2 linked regions of the Homo sapiens genome follow. The protein of the gene in region 2 purifies or fractionates together with the protein of the main gene of each other region. This does not show direct contact. Each region holds a gene or a part of one and is shown on either strand. Other genes may lie near its edges.

What was found.
Region 1: the proteins of ADA2 (region 2) and TRIO purify together in Homo sapiens (affinity purification with mass spectrometry; one large-scale study listed by BioGRID and IntAct). This does not show direct contact.

What each region holds. Positions count from the first base shown.
Region 1 is NC_000005.10:14,289,842-14,293,341, forward strand, and holds part of TRIO (triple functional domain protein), read left to right. Parts: intron 1-874; coding exon 875-1,387; intron 1,388-3,170; coding exon 3,171-3,293; intron 3,294-3,500. UniProt on the Homo sapiens protein: Guanine nucleotide exchange factor (GEF) for RHOA and RAC1 GTPases. Involved in coordinating actin remodeling, which is necessary for cell migration and growth. Plays a key role in the regulation of neurite outgrowth and lamellipodia formation.
Region 2 is NC_000022.11:17,209,135-17,213,158, reverse strand, and holds part of ADA2 (adenosine deaminase 2 isoform a precursor), read left to right. Parts: intron 1-3,435; 5' UTR 3,436-3,481; coding exon 3,482-3,803; intron 3,804-4,024. UniProt on the Homo sapiens protein: Adenosine deaminase that may contribute to the degradation of extracellular adenosine, a signaling molecule that controls a variety of cellular responses. Requires elevated adenosine levels for optimal enzyme activity.

The sequences.
Region 1 (3,500 bases), on a different chromosome or scaffold from region 2:
CCATCTCAAAAAAAAATAATAATAATAAATATAAAGATTTCTTGCTTAGACTGTAATTGACTAAAACTTTGTCACTGTTAAATTGCAATGTAGTACAGATTATATACAACTCTAGGACTGTTCAGAATCACAGCAGATTATTGCAATGAATAAAACATTGCCTCTATCCTTAGCTCTGTCAAATGAGCCTCTGCCAGCTTTCTTGCCAACTCTTGAATATTTTCTAAATTTTTATAAATTCATTCATATCCCATCATCTGTTATTTGATGGGCAGTGGGGTTAGGCTTAGGCAAGATGAATGATAGGGTGGTCTGGTTGGAGCAGCATTCATCGTTTAATAGGCAGCCCACACGTAATTGAATTTAGAGTGATGTTACACTTAAAAGGGTTTTGATGCCCTTGAGCAAGACGTTTGTGTAATAGCAAGTAGTAGAAAACCTCCACAGAGTTTCTGGCATGGATGAAAAAGAATGGGGAGAAGAATGCATTGATGTAAGTGAAATTTCTGAATTGTTTGCTCTGAACTTGCAATTTAACCTGTTTCCTAGTTTAATGTGTCTGTTATAGTGGGTTAATCTCCATCTTCTTGGAAAGAAATCTCATTTCTTTAGCTCTCATGAAATACACGATTCTACAGTTTTGGGTATTCCAGCTGACATATATGTGTTGCTATAATGGATTTGTCTTTCATTGTACTGATAATGCTTCTTTCATCTACATTTATTTTTATGGGGCCAGAACCAGGTATGTTATGTTTTCTATAAATAGATTACTTTAACTTTGAAAACCTGTGACTGAGCATTGCAAATTGCATTATGTTAAAACTATATAAAATTGGTTCATCTTCTCATACGTGATTTTTTTTCCCTTAAGACAAATATGGTCTCTTTAGAAGGCCTTACCAAAGTAGTTGATCCTTCTCAGCTAACTCCTGAGTTTGATGGCTGCCTGGAATACAACCACGAAGAATGGATTGAAATCAGAGTTGCTTTTGAAGACTACATTAGCAATGCCACCCACATGCTGTCTCGGCTGGAGGAACTTCAGGACATCCTAGCTAAGAAGGAGCTGCCTCAGGATTTAGAGGGGGCTCGGAATATGATCGAGGAACATTCTCAGCTGAAGAAGAAGGTGATTAAGGCCCCCATCGAGGACCTGGATTTGGAGGGACAGAAGCTGCTTCAGAGGATACAGAGCAGTGAAAGCTTTCCCAAAAAGAACTCAGGCTCAGGCAATGCGGACCTGCAGAACCTCTTGCCCAAGGTGTCCACCATGCTGGACCGGCTGCACTCGACACGGCAGCATCTGCACCAGATGTGGCATGTGAGGAAGCTGAAGCTGGACCAGTGCTTCCAGCTGAGGCTGTTTGAACAGGATGCTGAGAAGGTAAAGACGGGGGAGGCTAATGCCTCAGTGGACATGGGGGAAGCCAGCGCTGGTGGGTTCGGGTGGAAGGAAAGAGAAAAGGTGGAGAATGGTAAGGCTATACTCACCGTGTGTGCTCTAAACCAGCGAGAGTCATTTCAGAAATGGCACTGAAATCTGTTTTCCGGTTTTACTCGTTGTGCAATACAGTGCTGTTTTAGAAATTTTGAGTTCAAATTACTTATTCTTTGGTCTAGGATGCCTGTAAGATAGGAATGATATTTTCACTTAAAAGAGTGAACATTTCGGCCGTGCTCACGCCTGTAATCCCAGCCCTTTGGGAGGCCGAGGTGGGCTGATCACCTGAGGTCAGGAGATTGAGACCAGTCTGGCCAACATAGTGAAACCCCGTCTCTACTAAAAATACGAAAATTAGCCGGGTGTGGTGGCACGCGCCTGTAATCCCAGCTACTCAGGAGGCTGAGGCAGGAGAATCGCTTGAACCCATGAGGCAGAGGTTGCAGTGAGCCAAGATCGTGCCATTGCATTTCGGCCTGGGCGACAGAGTGAGACTCCGTCTTAAAAAAAAAAAAAAAAAAAAAAAAAAAAGTGAAAATTTCACAGGGTTATGTTATTGACAAAACACCATTCCAATCTATTGAGTATGTTTTTTAAAATCAAGATGAGTAATGTGTTAAAAGTAACAGTTTCTGGGTAATATAGTTGGTAATCACCTCTAGTCTCATGTTTTATTCTTATGCACCAGGCAGACCAACTGGTCAAAGTGAATCCTTATCAATTACTGGCTAATTGAATCTTAGCAATGTGGAAACTGGGCACTTACCCATAGGTATGTGTTGCAAGCCATGAACATGGGTGAATTAATCATTGAGTTTTATTGGAGCTCATTGAATTTTATATTACATGGACAGGAGAATATTTTGTAAAGTAAAAAACCACATTAGAATTCTTGGATGTAAAAGGACTTTTCAAAAGGTGATAATCCAGTGTTTTTATTACTAAAGCTTTTAATGTATCTGTCAGTGTTCTTTTGTTTTAAGTAGCACCTTGTCTAAGAGACTGGAATACCTTCTTTTCAATTACTGGAAGACCAGGTTACTGTCACTGGGATTCTGGTTCAAGTCATGGTAGCAATGCTAATTGATGATAGTCATCTATATTTTCTTAAATGTTTTCATTGCAAATGTCTTAATTGACATCCTTGTCCAAGTAACATCTATATTGAACCTTAAGGGAGATGTCATAGTTAGTTTTTCCCACCTTTTTTATAGTAAATTTTATGTTTTTGCAATCTGCACAGGTGTCTGTGTACTTCTTGATCAAACAGTGGAATCTTTTAGTCATTGATATTTCTGTCAGTAACCTGTGGGCACAGCAGAACCCATCCAGAGACCCATAAGTTCCTAATTTCACCCTAACGGGTCTTTAATTGAACCTCACTGTGGCAAATTAAGTAGTTCAGCGTGGCAGGGAGACTGGGCTGAGAGTCAGAGGATCAGAGTTTTTAATCAGCCTGGGGGATTAGAGTAACTCTCTTTACTTATCTGCTTCTTAATTCCTTCTCTGTAAGAGGAACACATCAGATAAGATTTTCTGGTAGGTCCTGCAAGTTCAGAACTGCTGACTTGTTCTTCGAAGTAAAGACTCTTCTGAGAGAATCAGACAGCGCTTGAAGTTGTCCAGGGAAGGAAGTTGCCCTTTCTTGGTACTGCCCCATCTGTGGGCTTGTGTCAGTAATTTCTCTTTCTGGAGTGATTGCGGGTTGTCTTTTTCCTTCCGGTAGATGTTTGACTGGATCACACACAACAAAGGCCTGTTTCTAAACAGCTACACAGAGATTGGGACCAGCCACCCTCATGCCATGGAGCTTCAGACGCAGCACAATCACTTTGCCATGAACTGTATGGTAAGACACTCGGAACAGCTGGACCCTGGCATGTGACAGTGTTTTAGCAAATGGGAGGCATTTGGCAAATTGTATGCTAGGGCTTTCAAGGGGCCTTCGGAGTGGCTGTTGATTGTAGCAGCTGACCTTCACATGGAGGGTGTTCCCTAGGGTTCCATTGTCTCACTATCCCACATTTTAAGTTTTAAACAAAAATGAAAACAAGCA
Region 2 (4,024 bases):
TTTGAGATGGGGTGAGACGATCTCATTGTAGTTTTGATTTGCACTCCCCCAGTGATTAGAAAAAATGTTGGCTGGGCCTGGTGGCTCAGATCTATAATCCCAGAATGTCGGGAGGTAGAGGCAGGAGGATCGCTTGAGCCCAGGAGTTTGAGACCAGCCATGGCAACATAGTGAGACCCTGTCTCTAAAGAAAAAAAAAAAATTAGCTGAGTGTAGTGGTACTACACTCAGCTACTCAGGAGGCTAGGGTGGGAGGATTCCTTGAAGCCGGGAGGTTGCCGCTGCAGCGAGCTTTGGAGTCCAACCAAGTGGACTCACGCTACTGCATTCCAGCCTGGGCAACAGAGTAAGACCCTGTCTCAAGGAAAAAAAAAAAAGAAAGAAAGAAAGCAAAGCAAAGAAAAAAATTTGGGCATTTATTCGTATACGTATTGGCCATTTTGTATGTCTTTGGGTCTTTGGCCATTTTTTAAGTGAGATTATTTGTCCTTTTACTGTTGAGTTGTTTGATTTCCTTATATAGTCTGGATATTAGCTCTCCATCAGATAACTAATTTGTAAATATTTTCTCCTATTCAAGAGATTGGCCGGGCATGGTGACTCACGCCTGTAATCCCAGCACTTTGGGAGGCCAAGGCAGGAGGATCACCTGAGGTCAGGAGTTCAAGACCAGCCTGGGCAACATAGTGAAACTCCGTCTCTACTACAAATACAAAAAAATTAGCCGGGCCTGGTGGCACATGCCTGTAGTCCCAGCTACTCAGGAGCTGGGAGGCTCAGGCAGAAGAACTACTTGGACCAGGGAGACGGAGATTGCAGTGAGCCAAGAAAAGGCTGGGCACGGTGGCTCATGTCTGTAATGCCAGTACTTTAGGAGTCCGAGTCTGGTGGATCACCTGAGGTCAGGAGTTCGAGACCAGCCTAACCAACGTGGTGAAACCCCATCTCTATTAAAAATATAAAAAAATTAGCCGGGCGTGGTGGCACGTGTCTGTAATCCCAGCTAGTCTGGAGGCTGAGGCAGGAGAATCGCTTGAACCTGGGAGGAGGAGGTTACGGTGAGCCGAGATCGCGCCATTGTACTCCAGCCTGGTTGACAAGAGCGAAACTCCGTCCCCCACAAAAGAAAAGAAAAGAAAAGAAAAGAAAAAAATAGGTTGTCTCTTCATTCTGTTAATTGTTTCTTTGCTATTTAATTAATTAATTAATTAATTTTTTTTTCCTCTTTTTTTGAGACGGAGTCTCACTCTGTTGGCAGGCTGGAGTGCAGTGGCACGATCTTGGCTCACTGCAACCTCCGCCTCCCGGATTCAAGCAATTCTCCTGCCTCAGGCTCCTGAGTAGCTGGGACTACAGGTGCATGCCACCACGCCCAGCTAATTTTTGTATTTTCAGTAGAGACGGGGTTTCACCATGTTGGCCAGGATGCTCTCGATCTCTTGACCTCGTGATCCGTCCACCTCAGCCTCCCAAAGTGCTGGGATTACAGGGGTGAGCCACTGCGCCTGGCCAATTCATTTATTTATTAGAGAGGATATGACATTGTTACCCAGGTTGGATTGCAGTGGCGCAATTTTGGCTCATTGCATCCTCGATTTCCCAGGCTCAGGTGAACTTCCCACCTCAGCCTCCCCAGTAGCTGGGACTATAGGTGTGCACAACCACGCCCAGCTAATTTTTGTATCTTTTGTAGAGATGGAGTTTCAACATGTTGCTGAGAATGGTCTTGAATTCCTGGGCTTGAGCAATCCACCTGCTGTGCCAGCACCTGGTCTTATTTTAATTTTATTTATTTATTTTGAGATTGAGTCTTGCTCTGTCGCCCAGGCTGGAGTGCAGTGGCGCGAACTCAGCTTATTCTAACCTCTGCCTCCTGGGTTCAAGTGATTCTCCTGTCTCAGCCTCCCAAACAGCTGGGACTACAGGCATGCGTCACCATGCCCAGCTAATTTTTGTATTTTTAGTAGGACGGGTTTTCATCATATTGGCCAGGCTGGTCTCAAACTCCTGACCTCGTGATCCACCCGCCTCGGCCTCCTGAAGTGTTGGGATTACAGGCGTGAGCCACCGCGCCCAGCCGTATTTTTATTTTTTAATAAAAAAATATTTTTTTTAGAGACAAGGTCTTGATCTGTTGCCAAGGCTGGAGTGCAGTGGTGAGGTCAAAGCTCATTGCAGCCTCAAAGTACTGGGCTCAAGTGATGCTCCCGCTTCAGCCTCCTGAATAGCTGGGACCACAGGCATGCTGGTTATATTTAAAAGTAAAACACTGGCTGGACATGTTGGCTCATGCCTGTAGTCCCAGCACTTTGGGAGGCTGAGATGAGTGGATCACTTGAGGCTAGGAGTTCAAGACCAGCCTGGCCAATATGGTCTCTATTAAAAATACAAAAATTAGCTGGGTATGGTGACGCGTGCCTGTAGTCCCAGCCACTTGGGAGGCTGAGGCACGAGAATCGCTTAAACCCTGGAGGCGGAGGTTGTAGAGGGCCAAGATCACGTCACTGCAGTCCAGCCTGGGTGACAGAGCAAGACTCTGTCTTAAAAAAAACAAAAATTAAAATAAATAAAATAAAATAAAAGTGAACCACTAAAAATCAGATTGCAGTGTCTTTATGCATGAGCCAGGGCTTGTTTGACCTCATGGTGACCTTTAATTTGGGAAAACCTGCCGGGCGCGGTGACTCATGCCTGTAATCCCAGCACTTTGGGAGACTGAGGCTGGCGGATCACCTGAGGTCAGGAGTTCGAGACCAGCCTGACCAACATGGAGAAACCCCGTCTCTACTAAAAATACAAAATTAGCCGGGCGTGGTGATGCATGCCTGTAATCCCAGCTATTTGGGAGGCTGAGGCAGGAGAAGCACTTGAACCCGGGAGGCGGAGGTTGCAGTGAGCCGAGATCACACCATTACACTCCAGCCTAGGCAACAAGAGTGAAACTCCATCTCAAAAAAAAAAAAAAATGCCAGGTGGTGCAGTGGCTCACGCCTGTAATCCCAGCACTTTGGGAGGCCCAGGCGGGCAGATCACGAGGTCAGGAGATCGTGACCATCCTGTCTAACACAGTGAAACCCCGTCTCTACTAAAAATACAAAAAATTAGCCGGGCATGGTGGCGGGCACCTGTAGTCCCAGCTACTCGGGAGGCTGAGGCAGGAGAATGGTGTGAACCCAGGAGGCGGAGCTCGCAGTGAGCCGAGATTGCACCACCGTGCTCCAGCCTGGGCAGCAGAGCGAGACTCCGTCTCAAAAAAAAAAAAAAAAAAATTGGGAAACCCCTACCTGTCTGTACCTGTAGGTCTTTTCTCTGGGGTCTGGAAGAAGAATCCTTCAATATCTTGCCTTCTGGTAATCTGAGAGCAGGGCGAGAAAAGGAAGATCAGAGTTCCACCCTTAAATCTGTAGGTTTTCACTCCCCCACTCTCCTTTGCAGTCCCGTGGAGTCTCCATCTGAGCCCTTTCCTAGTCCAGGCATCCCGATGTTGGTGGATGGCCCATCTGAGCGGCCAGCCCTGTGCTTCTTGCTGTTGGCTGTGGCAATGTCTTTCTTCGGCTCAGCTCTATCCATAGATGAAACACGGGCGCATCTGTTGTTGAAAGAAAAGATGATGCGGCTGGGGGGGCGGCTGGTGCTGAACACCAAGGAGGAGCTGGCCAATGAGAGGCTCATGACGCTCAAAATCGCTGAGATGAAGGAGGCCATGAGGACCCTGATATTCCCACCCAGCATGCACTTTTTCCAGGCCAAGCATCTCATTGAGAGAAGTCAAGTGTTTAATATTCTAAGGATGATGCCAAAAGGTAAGGTTTGGAAAGGGGTGGCTTGGGGTGCTGGGAAGGTAGAGGGACTCATCTTGGGGCTATTACTGTGCTTGTGGCTGTTGCTATTCTAGATGGAGCAGAGAAAGCCTCACTCAGCTGTTCTGCTCCTCTGTCCTTATGGGTAGACTAGGAAAAGGGTGTTGAAAACCAAAACCCCTGCTTCCTGGGGGACTCGCAGACAGTCAGGATTGGAAAAGCAT